2 separate regions of the Homo sapiens genome follow, and region 2 is linked to region 1. Evidence: fine-mapped expression QTL. Tissue or cell type: whole blood. Region 1 holds a variant in brackets; the other region holds the start of a gene. All regions are shown on one strand. Distances are from middle to middle.

Region 1 (8,203 bases):
CTTTTCATTTCATCTTCTCTTTGATATTTACATCCCATAAAGTAAGAAGTGTTTATTTTAAGATGAACAGATGACAGGCATCACTGATTCTGGATAGTTAAGGAGGCCAGTTTGAATTGGGGACATTGAAAAAGAAATTTTATTGTTACAGGCACTTACGGGAACCCACTAACCAATTTACATTGCCTAGTGAATCCACTAGAGTTAAGGCCACCCACTTGATGCCTCCAGCATCTTCATGCAGCCATGGAGTATCGTTACCAGGATCAGTCTGACTGACACCTCAGCTTATCTCTACGCAGGCTGCCCACAGGTCACTGTGGCTGTAGTTTCATCTTTTCCACAGCTATTACTACGCCTGCATCCTTATTGTTCCTTTTACTTTGTTTACTTAGAGAAAACTGAAGACTGCCAGGGCAATTTAGATAACATAGCTTGTTATATTGGTAATCTGTTTTACAGAGTCAGTCGACTGAAAATGACTTTATTCTTTTCCCCCACCAATTGAAGTGCATGGGCTTTTTATAAAACCTATTTTTTGTGTTACTCAGAATCCTAGCAGTGGAGACTATTAGATATTACCATATCTTAATTCATATTATAGCAAATCATATTGTCTTGTCCATAGGAAGTTTGCATTTTTAGAGATCTATACATAGAGAATACCATGATGAGGAAGAAGAGAGTTGGGTGTCTTCCTTAACTGCAGACAGGACATCAGTCAGCACTTTACATTAGTCTTTCTGATTATCAAAAGCATTCCTCATTTTAAACTTTTTAAAAAGCAATGCATAAATTTTGTACCTGTCCTTAGCAGACTTCACAGACATCAGGTGTCCTTTGTTTTAACCATATTCACACTACAAGTTATGTTCAACTGCTTACTAAAAGTGATACCAGTCAGGAATAAAGTCTTTAAATTTTCATGCAGATATTTGTATCCCAAGCACTTGCTTTTTTATTTTAATATGAAATGCAGAATACACATTTTTGGATCCAGGAAGTGTTACTTACGTGCCTGTAACAATGTAATTTTAGGCCAGGTGCAGTGGCTCATGCCTACAGTCCTAGCACTTTGGAAGGTTGAGGGAGGATGATCGCTTAAGTTCAGTTGTTGAAATGCAGAATACACATTTTTGGATCCAGGAAGTGTTACTTACGTGCCTGTAACAATGTAATTTTAGGCCAGGTGCAGTGGCTCATGCCTACAGTCCTAGCACTTTGGAAGGTTGAGGGAGGATGATCGCTTAAGTTCAGTTGTTGAAATGCAGAATACACATTTTTGGATCCAGGAAGTGTTACTTACGTGCCTGTAACAATGTAATTTTAGGCCAGGTGCAGTGGCTCATGCCTACAGTCCTAGCACTTTGGAAGGTTGAGGGAGGATGATCGCTTAAGCTCAGTTGTTCAAGGCTATGTACTAAAAATAAAACTAGCCAGGCATGGTGGTACACGCCTGTAGTCCCAGCTACTTGGAGGGCTGAGGCAAGAGGATCGTGAGGTGGCAGTGAGTTATGATCGAGCCACTGTACTCCAGCCTGGGTGACAGAGCAAGACCTTGTCTCAAAATTATACATGTTAATATATTCTAGTTTAATATTGCAAACATCTTTAGAATTTCATCAGAAACGTGATTTTTTCTAAGAAATGCAAAAGGATTTTAGGATTTTTAACACAGAGGACATGTTTAACAAATGAATCCTGACAGACACCTGCAGTTTAGAATAAATTTGTGAACATCCATGCGTATAAAGTGTCCTCTTGGGACAAGACATGTTCACACTGACTTGGGGAATATGCCCCCAAGGTGAGAGCTGTCTTTTGAACTGTGATCTGACTCTGAAAAGTAGTGAATGCCCCAGGTGATAGACTGTAACTGTGAGTGGAATTAATGCTGCTTGCATGCCTTTTAATCCAAAACCAAATTCTTTTAAAAAATTTTTAAATAAAATTTCACCTTTGTATTCTTTCATTACAGATATCCATTTGGGGATGAAGTCTACTTTGACAGCTAGCAAGGCGACATGCAACTGTTGTTGAATGATGACAGCAATTCAGGAAAGACTTAAATATGAAAGCAAATTGAACACATCGGGTGTTTGTTATCAGAAAAGAGATGAGATGAGATAAGACTTGTTTATTGACTAGCCAATATGTCATTAAAATTAAGGTTTATATTGTGAAGCTTTTTTGAAATTTTACTTTTTTTTGAGAGTTTTGCTCTGTCACCCAGGCTGGAGTGAGGTGGTACAATCTCGGCTCACTGCAACCTCCACCTCCCAGGTTCAAGAGATTCTCCTGCCTCAGTCTCCCGAGTAGCTAGGATTACAGATGTGCATCACCATGCCTGGCTAATTTTTGTATTTTTTAGTAGAGATGGGGTTTCACCATGTTGGTCAGGCTGGTCTCGAACTCCTGACCTCAAGTGACCCGCCCTTGTCGGCCTCCCAAAGTGCTGGGATTACAGGCATGAGCCATTGTGCCCAGCCTATATAGTGTGAAGCTTTTAGGAAAATCAGAACAGGGTAGACAGCTGTTAAAAACAATGTTTAAATGGAATAATGTTGAATGTTTACAGGCTGTAAGAACTATTGTATACACAAAATAATACACAAAGTTTGTACTTTGTGTACAAATACAAATTTGTACTTTGTGTACAAATAATACAAAAAGTTTGTATACACAAACTTTTTACGTTGTGGTTTGGTATATTGTCTTAACTGAATTTTCTTATAAGAACCCCATGAAACTTACCTGAGTTTTTAAAATGCTATCCAGGACATCATACCTTATAGTATACATGAAACATAATGTAATCCAGGTTGTAATTTAGAACTTTTTTTTTTTTTTTAGCTGAGCACTTAATGTAATTAATTCCAGGTTATGACTCTTAAAAAACATTGGCCATTAGAGAAATAGTTCTATTTGCCCATCCAAATCACCTGAATGACTTTTTGAAAGAATAGGGGTCCACATCCCCAGATCCCATCCCAGCTGTGCACAGTCTGAAGCAAGCAGAGTGAAACAAGTTGGCAACTTGTTCCAAGCGTGGGCCTTTGCAGTCTGTGATCCAGTGTTACTCCAGGTCCCAGTCTGTCCCATACTTGTCTTTTGCTACAGTTAGTTAGTTACTTTGTTATCATCCCCTTGTAAACTGCCTTCAATATCTGGGATAAGGAAGACAAAGCTTAATGACAACTAAGGTTCTAGCTGACATCTTTCTTTCATATTTAATTTTTGTGAGTTTTCATCTGTTTTCTGTTTGTTTATGTGTCCTAGGTTCTTGACCTAACCA[C/T]ATGGGTTTTGTTTTTTGTTTTTATATTAGAACTTAGAAAAGTTTGTTTTACAGCAGTATTATGGAACAGAAGAGACCATTTTAAATAATTTTTTTAAACAGCCCAAAACACACAAAAGATACTTGTTTTCTAGAGACAGGGTCTTGCTCTGTCACCCAGGCTGGAGTGCAGTGGCACGATCATAGCTCAGTGCAGCCTCCACCTCCTGGGCTCAAGTGGTCCTCCTGCCTCAGCCTCTTAAGCAGTTGGGACTACAGGTGTGTGCCAGCATGCTTGCTGTTTTTTTTTTTTTTGAGACAGAGTCTTGCTCTGTCACTCAGGCTGGAGTCCAGTGGCTTGGTCTCAGCTCACTGCAATCTCTGCCTCCCAGGGGTTCAAGTGATTCTCCTGCCTCAGCCTCCCAAGTAGCTGAAACTACAGGCGCATGCCACCATGCCCAGCTAATTTTTGTATTTTTAGTAGAGACAGGGTTTCACTATGTTGGCCAGGCTGGTCTCAAACTCCCGACCTCAAGTGATCCGCCCGCTTCGGCCTCCCAAAGTGCTGGGATTACAGGTGTGAGCCACTGCGCCTGGCTGCTGATTTATTTTTCATAGACACGGGGGTCTATGTTGCCCAGGTTGGTCTTGAACTCCTAGCCTCAAGCGATCCTCCTGCCTCAGCCTCCCAATGTGCTGGGATTACAGGAATGAGCCACCATGCCCAGCCCAAGAAGTAGAGTTTCTTTTATACTGACTTTGGCCTAAAAAAACAGATTTTCATGGAGGAAAAAAAAACCTAGATTTTTAGTAAGACTATTTTATATACTTTTTTACATTGATCAAGTACATTATTTTTACCAAACAACATTGTTTCCCACTACATCCATGGTTATGTATAAAAAAACGCCATTGTCAATTAAGATGTTAAAAAATTATTTCCATAAGAGTATTAAATTCTAATCTATGATTCACTTAACTTCCTACTTTATAAACACTAGGTAAAGTAATCTCACAAGCTGCCAAAGAACACATCCCAAGCAGTAATCACAGACGATGAAGCACCTTACAGGACCCCTCCACCCTCAAACGCGCATGTCCAGAGAAGTATTAATGCCTTAATAGACTACTGAAGGTTAACTATTTACATCATTCTAAAAATATTTTAAGCTGTATTACAGTGCTATAAATTCTCCTTTTAAGGAAAAAAGTAATAGATTGTTTCCTTACCGTGTTTGAAAGGAAAAAAAATAAATCCATAGTAACTAATGGTCTGCCGATTTTTTCCCTGAATTTTTAAACTCCAACAAAGCATTATTTTGCAAAAAGTCCTTTAGCCCAAAGTCAGTGTCTCTGTTTTGATCTCTTTGTAAAAGAACTCTCTGTTCATCCATTCTCTTTCCCTGGGACCGTAAAATAAGGCTGAAAAAGTCTTCATCTGGTACTGTCGGACCCTTTGTGGTAGCAGGTGGTGGAGCACATCTTTGATCATCTAATCTGGATCCCTAGAAGTTTATGAGAGAGATTAAAAGACATACTGTGGGAAAGAAAGCACCAAGCTATGTTAAATCTCTCAGTCACAACAAGAAAACGCAGTTGTAAACTTTTATTTGGGGCTTCTCAGAAATTAATCTTTGTTTTTATATTGTTCTCTTTAGTTCCCAGCCTGATTTCTGAAAGAAATAATCTTTAAACCTGAAACTGCATAAAATTTTTCCTTTAAAATGGCTTATATAGGTATAGCTGCTTCATTGGTTTAGTACGTGCATTATGTTAAGTCATACTGTTTTAATTATAATTGGTCACAAGGATAAAAGACAAGGTCAACTGTATCTAAGTATGACAGTTCAAGGTTATAATCTAACAGGCATCAACTGTGTAACTTAACAAATCTTTAGAAATATGTACAAACCCCATGAGGAACTACCTTAAAAAAATCACGTCTTAGGCTAGGGGACAGCAAACTGTAACCCAGTGCCGGCTTCTGTAAATGAAGTCATTTTCATTTTCCCATCAATACATATGTTTATATACTATCTATATGGCTGCTTCCCTACTAAATGGCAGAGTTGGGCAGTTGCAATAGATACCATATGGGCGGCAAAGCCTAAAATATTTTCTATCTGGCCTTTTACAGAAAAAGTTTGCCTGCCTCTGTCTTAGGCTGTTAAATCTGTTAAGAAATAGCCCAGAATGAATTTTTTTTTTTTTTTTTTTGAGACGGATTCTCGCTCTGTCATCCAGGCAGGACTGCAGTGGTGTGATCCTGGCTCACTGCAACCTCCATCTTTCAGGTTCAAGTGATTCTTCAGCCTCAGCCTCCCAGTAGCTGAGACTATAGGCATGCGTCACCACACCTGGCTAATTTTTGTATTTTTAGTAGAGATGGGGGTTTCACCATGTTGGCCAGGCTGGTCTCGAACTCTTGACCTCAAGTGATCCACCCGCCTTGGCCTCCCAAAATGCTGGGATTACAGGCATGAGCCTGGTCTCTGAATTTTTCTTTCAAGTTTGAGTATTATGATTCTTATATTAGACATGCTACTTGTCAAAAAATACATGCACTTACAAGTATACACCATAGTTTCTGGCATTGTAGCTCAAGAGTAAGAATAGAAGTGTGATAGCTGATATTTGAATATGCACTACATTGTTAGGGACTGTGATAAGACATAGATCCCTGAACATTTAAGCCCACAACCCTCAGAGGGTGCAGTTATTTACTGCCCTCCTAAGTGAGTGCCACCTCCACACATACCTGGCTCATTCATTTCTCCTGTCATAAATTGATAATTTCAATGTCCTCCAATTAACCCAACACTTGGGCACTTAGTTCCTAGACTTCCTCACTTAGTTCCTAGACTTCCTCTGATTGAATGTCCTCATCCTTCACTTCGGCCTTAGCCATTTGGCTCCCATGGTCATATTCTAGCCTCTTGTTATCTCTATAGAAATGCCTCTTCCAGTTCTTTGCCCATTTTTGAATCAGGTTGGTTTTTGTTGAGTTTTAGGAGTTTTCTATATATTCTGGGTATTAATCCTTTATCAGATATGTGATTTCCAAGTATTTTATGTTGGGTTGCCTTTTTACTGTTGATAATGTCCTTTGATGCACAAGTTTTTAATTATGAAGTCCAATTTGTCTACGTTGTTGTTGTTGTTCCCTGCTCACTCTTTTGGTTTTATAACCAAGAAATCACTGCCAAACCCAATGCCATGAGGCTTTCCTTTTTTTTCCCTTTAGAGACAGGGTCTCACTCTGTGGCCTAAGCTGGAGCACAGTGACGTGATCATGGCTCACTGCAGCCTTGAACTCCTAGGCTCAAGTGATCCTCCCACCTCAGCCTCCTGTGTAGCTGGGACTACAGGTGTGTGCCATTAATTTAAAAAAATTTTTTTATAGAGATGGGGTCTCACTATGCTGCCCAGTCTAGTCTTGAACTCCTGGGCTCAAGCAATCCTCCCACCTTGGCCTCCCAAAGTGCTGGGATTACAGGTATAAGCCACCACATGCTCCTCTTGAGTTTTATAGTTTTAGTTCTGATGCTTAGGTCTTTGGCCCACTTTGAGTTTTGCATATGGTATTAGGTAAGGGTCCAACTTCATTCTTTTTGTATGTGGCTCTCTAGTTTACCCAGAACCATTTGTTGATAAAACTGTCTTTTCCCCCACTGAATGGTCTTGGCACCCCTGTTGCATATTATTTGACCACACATGCAAGGGTTTATTTCTGGGATCTGTATTCTATTCCATTGGTCTATATGTCTGTCTTTTATGCCAGTACTGCACTGCTTTGATTAATGTAGCTTTGTAATAACCTGAAATAAAAAAATGTGAGCCCTAAAGCTTTATTCTCAAGACTATTTCGGATATTTGGGGATCCCTTGAGGTTCTATATGAATTTTAGGCTATATTTTCTATTTCTGTAGGAGGAAAAAGTCATTTGGATTTTTACAGGGATTGCACTGAATTTGTAGGTCACTTTGGATAGTATCGAAATGTTAACATTATTAAGTCTTCTAATCCATGAACATGGGATATTGTTCCATTTGTTTTCTTTCATCTCTTTCAGCAATGTTTTGTGGTTTTCATTATACAAGTCTTTGCCTCAGTGATTAATTTCTAAGTATTTTATTCTTTTTGATGCTATTTTAAATGGAATTTTAAATTTCTTTTCCAATTGTTCATTGTTAGTGTATAAACACACAACTGATTTTTGTGTTGATTTTGTATCATGCTACTTTGTTGAACTTGTTGATTACCTCTGTCAATTTTATTGATACTTTGTCCTTTCCAATGTGAATGCCTTTTTTTCTTTTTTTGCCTAATTGCTCCAGCTAGAATTTCTAGTACTACATTGAATAGAAGTGGCAAAAACCTGCATTCTGATCTCGTTCCTGATCTTGGAGGAGAGCTTTCAGTCTGTCACCATTGAGTATGATGTCAGCGGTACATGTTTCATATATGGCTTTTATTATGTTCTGGTAGTTTCCTACTGTTGCTAATTTTTAAGTTTTTATCATGAAAGAGTTTTGAATTGTCATTTTTTTCCTGTATGTGTTTTTTCCCTTTATTCTGTTTATATTATGTGTTACACTGATTGATTTTCACATGTTGAACAATCAGTCCTTGCGTCCTGGGAATAAGTCCCACTTGGTCATGGTGTAAAATCCTTTACAGCAGGGGCGCTGCTAAATTTGGATTGTAGGCTTTTGTTGATTTTGCATCTGGATTCATGAAGGATATTGGTCAGTACTTTTCTTGTAGTGTCTGTCTGGCTTTGGTATTGGCAATACTGGCCTCACAGAATGAGTTATGAAGTGTTCATTTCTTTATTTTCCTTCTTACAGCCTAGATTCTTAAGTCCATTATTAAAATCACTTCCTGGCACATGTCTTCAACTACCATTCTCTCCCCTGAATCCCATTC
Region 2 (8,166 bases), 33 kb before region 1:
CGACAGAGCAAGACTCCCTCTCAAAATAATAAGCACCAGAAATTGTTATATTTGCTTCAGTAAATAGCTGGTTACATATGTCCTTTTTTGTTTGTCTCCACATGTCTTCTGCATGGGGTGACTAGGTTCTTTGAGGTTCACATAAAAGAGAAAATGAGAGGACTGAAGTATCTATACTCTTGGGGTCCATCTCATTTGGCAGTGCAAGGAAGGGGAATTGGGGTGGATGGGTAGTGCAGAGGTTCTTAATTATTCCCAGGGAGGACATTTAGAGGTCTGTTCCAATTTTATGTGTGTGTGTGTGTGTGTGTGTGTGTGTGTGTGTGTGTGTGTGTTGCCTCAAGTTGAGAGATTATTTCTATTTTTAAAATGTTTAATTTTTCTATTGCATTGTGTTATATTGACAAAGTCTTGCTCACTATAGCCTAGAACTCCTGTGCTCAAATGATCCTCCTGCCTCACTCAGCCTCCCGAGTAGCTAGGACTACAGGCACATGCCACAATGTGGGGCTAATTTTTTTTATAGAGATGGGTGTCTCACTATGTTGCCTAGGCTGGTCTCAAACTCCTGGCCTCTTAACAGTCCTCCCATCTTGGTCACCCAAAATGCTAGCATTACAGGCATGAGACACCACATCTGCCCCCAAATTTTATTTTTAAAATGTTTACTTTTCCAAAATTGTAATGTCGACGGAGTCAAACTCTGTAAAATATTTGAAGAGATTTATTCTGAGCCAAATTTAAGTGACCATGGCCCATGACATAGCCTCAGGAGATCCTGAGAAGATGTGCCCAAGGTGTTTGGGCTACAGCATGGTTTTATATACATTTTAGGGAGCGTAAGACATCAATCAATACATGTTAAATATACATTGGTTCAGTTCAGAAAGATGGGACAACTCAGAGGTGGGGGTGGGGGGATGGACCTGCTGTCACATTGGTATCTTACTGCTACAAAGTGTGTCAGTGTTAAGGTCTCTGTTTTTTTTTTTTTTCCTGAGACAGAGTCTCGCTTTGTCACCCAGGCTGGAGTGCAATGGCATGATCTCAGCTCACTGCAACACCCACCTTCCAGGTTCAAGCGATTCTCCTGCCTCAGCCTCCCAAGTAGCTGGCATTACGGGCCCACCGCTTTGCCTGCCTAATTTTTGTGATTTTACTAGAGACAGGGTTTCACCATGTTGGCCAGGCTGGTCTTGAACTCCTGCCCTTAAGTGATTCACCTGCCTTGGCATCCCAAAGGGCTGAGATTACAGGCATGAGCCACTGCAACTGGCCTCAGGTTTACTTTAGAATGCCCTTGGCTGAGAGGATGGGCCTATTCAGTTGGTTGGGGGGCTTAGAATTTTATTTTCGTTTTATAGTAAGAAGCCAAAGGACACAACAGAGTGAAAAGGCAACCCACTAAGAGGGAGAAGATGGGGCCGGGCATGGTGGCTCATGCCTGTAATCCCAACACTTTGGAAGGCTGTGGCAGGAGGATCACTTGAACCCAGGAGTTTGACACCAGCCTGGGCAATACAGGGAGACCCTGTCTCTAAAAAAAAAAAGAAAAGAAAAAGTGGGAGAAGATATTTGCAAATCCTATCTGATAAGGTGGTTAATATCCAGAATATATAAGGAACCAAAACACAACAAAAACCCATTAAAAAATGGGCAAAGCCAGGAGTTCAAGGCTGCAGTGGGCCATGATCATGACACTGCACTTCAGCCTGGGTGACAAAGCGAGACCCTGTCTCTTAACAAAACAAAATAAAACAAACAAAACAAATGGGTAAAGGACTTGAATAGACATTTCTCCAACAAACATATACAAATGGCATGACCAATAAGCACAAGAAAAGATGCTCAACATCACTGGTCATTAGCGAAAGGCAAATCAAGACCACAGTGAGATACCTCACACCTATTAAGATGGCTACTATACAAAAATAAAAAGATGTCAGTGGAGATGTGGGGAAATTGGAACTTGTGCACTCTTGGAGGGAATGTAAAATGTTGCAGCCACTATGGAAAAGAGAATGGCAGTTCCGCCGGGCGCAGTGGCTCATGCGTGTAATCCCAGCACTTTGGCAGGTCGAGGTGGGTGGATAACGAGGTCAGGAGTTCGAGACCAGCCTGGTCAACATAGTGAAACCCCATCTCTACTAAAAATACAAAAATTAGCCAGGCATGGTGGCAAACGCCTGTAGTCACAGCTACTCAAGAGGCTGAGGCAGGAGAATCGCTTGAACCCGGGAGGCAGAGGTTGTGGTGAGCCGAGATCGTACCACTGCACTCCAGCCTGGGCAACAAGAGTGAAACTCCATCTCAAAAAAAAAAAAAGTACGGCAGATCCTCAAAAAATTAAAAATAGAATTACTACATAATCCAGCAATTCCACTTGTGTATATATATTCAGGAGTTGAAAGCAACAGATATTTGAACATCTGTGTGTATACCCAAAAGGGTTAAAAAACAGATATTTGTATATCCATGTTTACAGTATTATTTCACAGTAGCCAAAAGTGGAAACAACCTGTTATCCATTAACAGATGACTGAATGAACTGGTATATACATAAAATGGAATACTATTCAGCCTTAAAAGAAATTCTGACACGTTACCACATGGATGAACCTTGAGGACATTATGGTAAGTGAAATCAGTTACAAAAAGACAAATGCTGTATGAGTCCTTATATGAAATACCTAGAGTAGTCAAATTCATAAAGACAGAAAGAATGGTAGTCGCTGGGAAGGAGGGAGGGGAAGAATGAGGCGTTACCACTTACTGGGTACAGAGTTTCAGTTTTGCAAGATGAGTGCTGGAGATGGATGGTGGTAATGGTTGCATAACAATGTGAATGTATCTAATACCACTGAATTGTACCTTTAAAAATGGTTAAGATAGTAAATTTTACCATCTTCACAGTTTCCCGAGATTGCAAGGCCAGCAGTTAAAGACAAAAACAAAACTACTTCCAACTGCCCTACAGTGTGCAGACCTTTCCCTTGTCCTGCCCTGAGTAGAACTACAGTTGTCATTCGTGATCCTCCCTTTAAAAAATTATGCTTGTGGCTAGGCGCGGTGGCTTACACCTGTAATCCCAGCATTTTGGGAGGCCGAGGCGGGCGGATCACCTGAGGTCAGGAGTTCGAGACCAGCCTAGCCAACATGGTGAAACCCTGTCTCTGCTAAAAATACACATTAGCTGGATGTGGTGGTGCGCGCTTGTAGTCCCAGCTGCTCGGGAGGCTGAGAGAGGAGAATTGCTTGAACCCGGGAGGCAGAGGTTGCAGTGAGCCGAGCCGAGATCGCGCCACTGCACTCCAGCCTGGGCAACACTGTGAGACTCTGCCTCAAAAAAAAAAAAATCATGCTTGCGTTTCATGGCGAATGTTACACATTCAAACTTATCAAATATATTAATAGTAAGAAAATAGGTTTCCTATCCGTTGTATATATTTGAGTTCCAGGCGAGATTTCCTTCGCAGAAAGAGTTCCGCAGATGAAAAGTAAAAGAAAATCCGCGGCGAAAATAACCCGCGCGCAGAGGCCGGTCCCGCTACTAGCCCCGCCCAATCAACGAGGCCAATCAGCGGCCCGCAACGGGGGAGGGACACGCAGCCGTCAGCCGAACAATTCGATGACGAGGCCCAGGAAGCACGCTGAAACCCTGGGCGGCGGCAAGCTGTGCGACCTCTTCTGCGGCCGGCCTGGGCAGGTGTCTTCCTCGAGAGGCAGGCAGGGGATCCCGGACGTGAGTCCGTGCAGTTGGGTGTGTTGTGCGGCGGGTGGGGCGGGTTACCCGCCGTTACGCCCTGGCGGGTCCAGCGGACTCGCGGCGCAGACGCTGGGGAGGCCGCAGGCGCGACCCGGGGCGGGGACCGTGCTAGCTGCGTGCGTCCGCTGCGGCCTGTGGGTGCCCCGGGCTCCTACCTCAGCTCCCGCGCCGGCGGCTGCCTGTCCGCCGCGGTTGCGCGCGTTCCGGGGAGGTGCTTGGCCCAGAGAGCGGCCTACGGAGAAGGCACAGCGAGGGCAAAGCGAGACCTGAGCGCACGTTGAATTCTGTTGGCTTTGGTTATCTCTGAAAACTTTAAGCATAATTTGAATAAATGCTGTCAGCAGAATAGCTCGGATTTAGTTGTAGTTAATTTTCTAAAACTTCAAATCTGTGAATTAACACAGTTAACAACAACAACAAAAACGGACACAAAACAACCTCCAAAATGGATTTTTTTTTTTTTTTTGAGACGGAGTCTTGCTGTGTCACCCAGGCTGGAGTGCGGTGGTGCTATCTCCGCTCACGGCAACCTCCGCCTTCCGGGTTCCAGCGATTCTCCTGCCTCAGCCACCTGAGTAGATGGGACCACAGGTGCGCGCCACCAGGCCCGGCTAATTTGTAAATTTTATTTGTAGAGAAGGGGTCTCCCTGTGTTGTCCAGGCTTGTCTCTGACTCCTGGGCTCAAAGGATCTTCCCATCTTGGCCTCCCAAAGTGCTGGGATTACAAGCGTGAGCCATTGCGCCTGGCTCCAAATCTGATTTGAGTGTAAAAAGTTAGACACACCATAAGCTGTAGGTTTATTACTGGGTGGTGAAAAACAATTCAGGTTTTCTTTATAATAGTGATTATGAAGTGTTCTTCCCAGACTAGCTTTATCGTCATCTGGGAAATTGTTAAAAATGCAAATTCGCAAGTTTGAGAGCCATGGTTCCAAGAAACTGCATAAGCATACGAAATAAGTTGCAGCCTCCCGACTTATACCCTGGTACTTCTAGTCTAAAACAGGATTTGACTCTACTAATCCAGGTTAGTCTTGCCTTTCCCATTACTCATGTGCTTTCGTTGAAACCAAAGACTTTTTCTTTTGTGCCCATTTCTACTCACTGCCTGGCCGTCTGCACGACGATCTGTGTTTCCTGGTAGTTCTCCAGTCTAGTAGCTACTATAAACTACTCTCCCTATTTCCCGCTCTGTGGAGATGTCGTTCCAACAGGTCCTCTCCACTCTAAGACCCTATCCTCTCAGAGAAGCCCCTGAGAGCCATTAGTACTTTTGCCCTGGAGAGGCAGTTTAGGTAGAGCCAGTCTGGGTTCTACCACTTACTAGCTTGGTGGTCTTAGGCAAGTTACTTTGTGTGATCTGTAAAATGAAGATGAGTGAAGATAAGAGTACTACTTCCAGTAGTTTTGTGAGGATTAAATTAATGTAACAGTGCTTAGCACATAGTAACAAAATATTAGCTACTTTTTTTTTTTTAGACGGAGTTTTGCTCTTGTTGCCCAGGCTGGAGTGCAATGGCGCGATCTCGGCTCACCGCAACCTGCACTCTCTGGGTTCAAGCAATTCTCCTGCCCCAGCCTCCCGAGTAGCTGGGATTACAGGCATGCGCCACCACGCCCTGCTACTTTTGTATTTTTAGTAGAGACAGGGTTTCTCCATGGTGGTCAGGCTGGGCTGGAGCTCCCAACCTCAGGTGATGCGCCCGCCTTGGCCTCCCAAGGTGCTGGGATTACAAGCGTGAGCCACCGTGCCCGGCCTTTAGCTACTATTATACATATTATAATTTAAAAATTATTAGTACCGAAGCCTGAGACAGGAGAGAAATGGTAAAAATAGTAGGGACTGCGGGAGAGAGAAAGAGTAGTGTCCCCTGACAAGTACTAGAATGACATAGGTGCCACCATTAAACGAAACTAGCTAGGATGGTTACTTTCGATTAACACTTTGCTACTCAAGAGTGTGGTCTGCGGCATCACCAGGAGCTTGTTAGAAGTGGAGATCTCAGACCTACCTCAGATTTACTGAATCAGAATCGTTTTTTTTTTTTTTTAACAAACTCTTCAGCAGGTTTAGATGTAGCTTTGTTTGGAGGAAGTGTGAGATTCGTTTTAGGATTTCTCAAGGAGTTCCAGCCTTCAATCAGTGACCATGGGGATCTGGCAGGAGGGCTTGAATTTCTAGCTGATTCTTCTATTCTGTCTTACCCTCCTGTCTTCCATCATTTCTGCATTGCTAATCTCTATCCCTGGAGAAATCTATGGAACTGCTGGTTATTACTGTAGAAAGTAACATAGTTGCCAATAGTACGACTTTGTGGATGTCACAGTCAAAACTCAACTGCCTGGCTGGCACAGTGGCTCACCTGTAATCCCAGCACTTTGGGAAGACAAGGCGGCGGGCAGGGGGATCCTTTGAGCTCAGGAGTTCGGGACTAGCCTGGGCAACATAGCAAGACCCTGTCTCTATAAAAAAGAAAAAAAAATCTCAACTGCTTGACAGGCTTTTTATTCACTTCCCTTTGTATAATGCCTCCTGTAGTACCTTTTTTCCCCTCCAAATCTCCGTTTCCCCCATCCTAACCTCCTCACAGTGTTAGAAATGCAAATTACTCTTAATTTCTCTGTCCACTTCATATCATATTATAATATGAAATCTGTCAGTTTCTCTTTTTACTTTAGAAATTTTGTCTTCATCCATCTTCATTCATTTCTATTTATGGAGTATATAACCTCATTGCCTATGAAGAACCCTTCCCGTAACCTTAATTTCATGCACTCCCATCTTGGAGCCTCTCTCCAGTTTACACACTCCCTTTGTCACCTACTTCTTAACCACTTAGAGAATTAGGCTTCTCACTGTCATTCTCTGAAAGGTCATAAATGGCCAACTAATTAACCAATCCAATGGCTTTTTTCCAGACTTTGTTCCTCTCCACTTCTCTGAAGTATTGAATACGCTTGATACCACTTTCTTGAAATTAAGTCCCTCCTTAGTTTTTGCCCATTGCATATTTTGGCTTGTCTTCTATTGCCCTGATTAGCCTTCACTCTCCTCTCTGGTATTTGCTTCTTCCATGGCTTTCTTCCTTAGTTGAACTCTTAATTTTTTCCAATAAAGTATACAGTTATTCAGTATTTCTAAGTATCTCCAGAGCATAACAGTGATTTTAGTGTTTTTTGTTTGTTTGTTTGTTTTTTAATTGAGTCAGGGTCTTGCTCTGTCACCCATGCTGGAGAGCAGTGGCGTGATCTCGGCTCAGTGCAGCTTCAACCTCCCCGGCTCAAGTGATCCTCCCACCTCAGCCTCTCCAAGTAGCTGGAAATATAGACGTATGCCACCACACCCAGCTAAATTTTGTTTCAAGTTTTGTAGAGATGGAATCTCCCTAAGTTGCCCAGGCTGGTGTCGAACTCCTGGGCTCAAGTGTTCCTCCTGCCTTGGCTTCCCAAAGTGCTGGGATTACAGGCGTGAGTCGCCACAACCGGCCAGAAACTATTGTTCTATTTATTTTGTGCAGAGCTTTGGTTGTTCAGGCAGGAGGGTAAATCTGGTCCCTGTTACTCCATCTTGGCCAGGAGTAGGAGTTGGGGAAGTGCTTTGGGAGTATAGAGTCCCCCCTTTACCCTTGGAGTATACATTCTAAGATCCTAGTAAATGCCTGAAACTTCAGATAGTACTGAACCTTGTATATATTCTATGTTATTTCCTATACATCTATTCCTCTGCTAAAGTTTAATTTATCAGTTAGGCACAGTAAGAGATTAACAGCAATAACTAATAAAATAGAAAAATTATAACAATACACAATAATAACAGTTATGTACTGTGGCTGGAATTTTTTCACTTGAGGTGCGACAGCAAAACTAGCATGAATTTCTTTCTCCTCCTGTACAATTTCATGGATACAAGTTTTGTTCTTAACATAGATCTTAGCAACCTCATCATATGAGCTTTTTTTTCTTTAATTTTTTTTTTTCTTTTGAGTTGGATTCTCACTTTGTCACCCAGGCTGGAGTACGGTGGTGTGCTCTCAGCTCTCTGCAACCTCTGTCTCCCAGGCTCAAGCGATTTTCCTGTCTCAGCCATTCAAGTAGCTGGCATTACAAGTGTGTGCCACCATACCTGGCTAATTTTCATATATTTATTTATTTATTTATTTTGAGACGGTGTTTCACTGTTGTTGCCCAAGCTGGAGTGCAATGGCGTGATCTCGGCTCACCTCAACCTCCGCCTCCCGGGTTCAAGTGATTCTCCTGCCTCAGCCTCCTGAGTAGCTGGGATTACAGGCATGTGCCACCACGCTCGGCTAATTTTGTATTTTTTTGTAGAGATGGGATTTCTCCATGTTGGTCAGGCTGATCTCAAACTCCCGATCTTGGGTGATCCGCCCACCTCGGC

Evidence for each region. PIP is the estimated chance that this variant, and not a neighbour inherited with it, causes the effect.
Region 2: CLCC1 starts here. The variant in region 1 is fine-mapped to the expression of CLCC1 in whole blood (INTERVAL, PIP above 0.99).

What each region holds. Positions count from the first base shown.
Region 1 is chr1:108,926,277-108,934,479 of GRCh38, reverse strand. GPSM2 (G protein signaling modulator 2) reads right to left here. Exons shown (of 15, transcript NM_013296.5): 15 at 1-4,779. The coding sequence ends at 4,540. It overlaps CLCC1 (chloride channel CLIC like 1), which reads left to right. Exons shown (of 13, transcript NM_001377458.1): 13 at 1,979-4,975. Among named protein-coding and RNA genes, the nearest start is that of CLCC1, 33 kb to the left of the region's middle. The variant C/T (reference allele first, on the strand shown) is at 3,296.
Region 2 is chr1:108,958,937-108,967,102 of GRCh38, reverse strand. CLCC1 (chloride channel CLIC like 1) reads left to right here and starts at 3,619. Exons shown (of 13, transcript NM_001377458.1): 1 at 3,619-3,742; 2 at 4,634-4,794. RefSeq lists silencers at 3,824-4,063, 4,202-4,496 and enhancers at 4,424-4,543, 4,916-5,416, 5,417-5,917.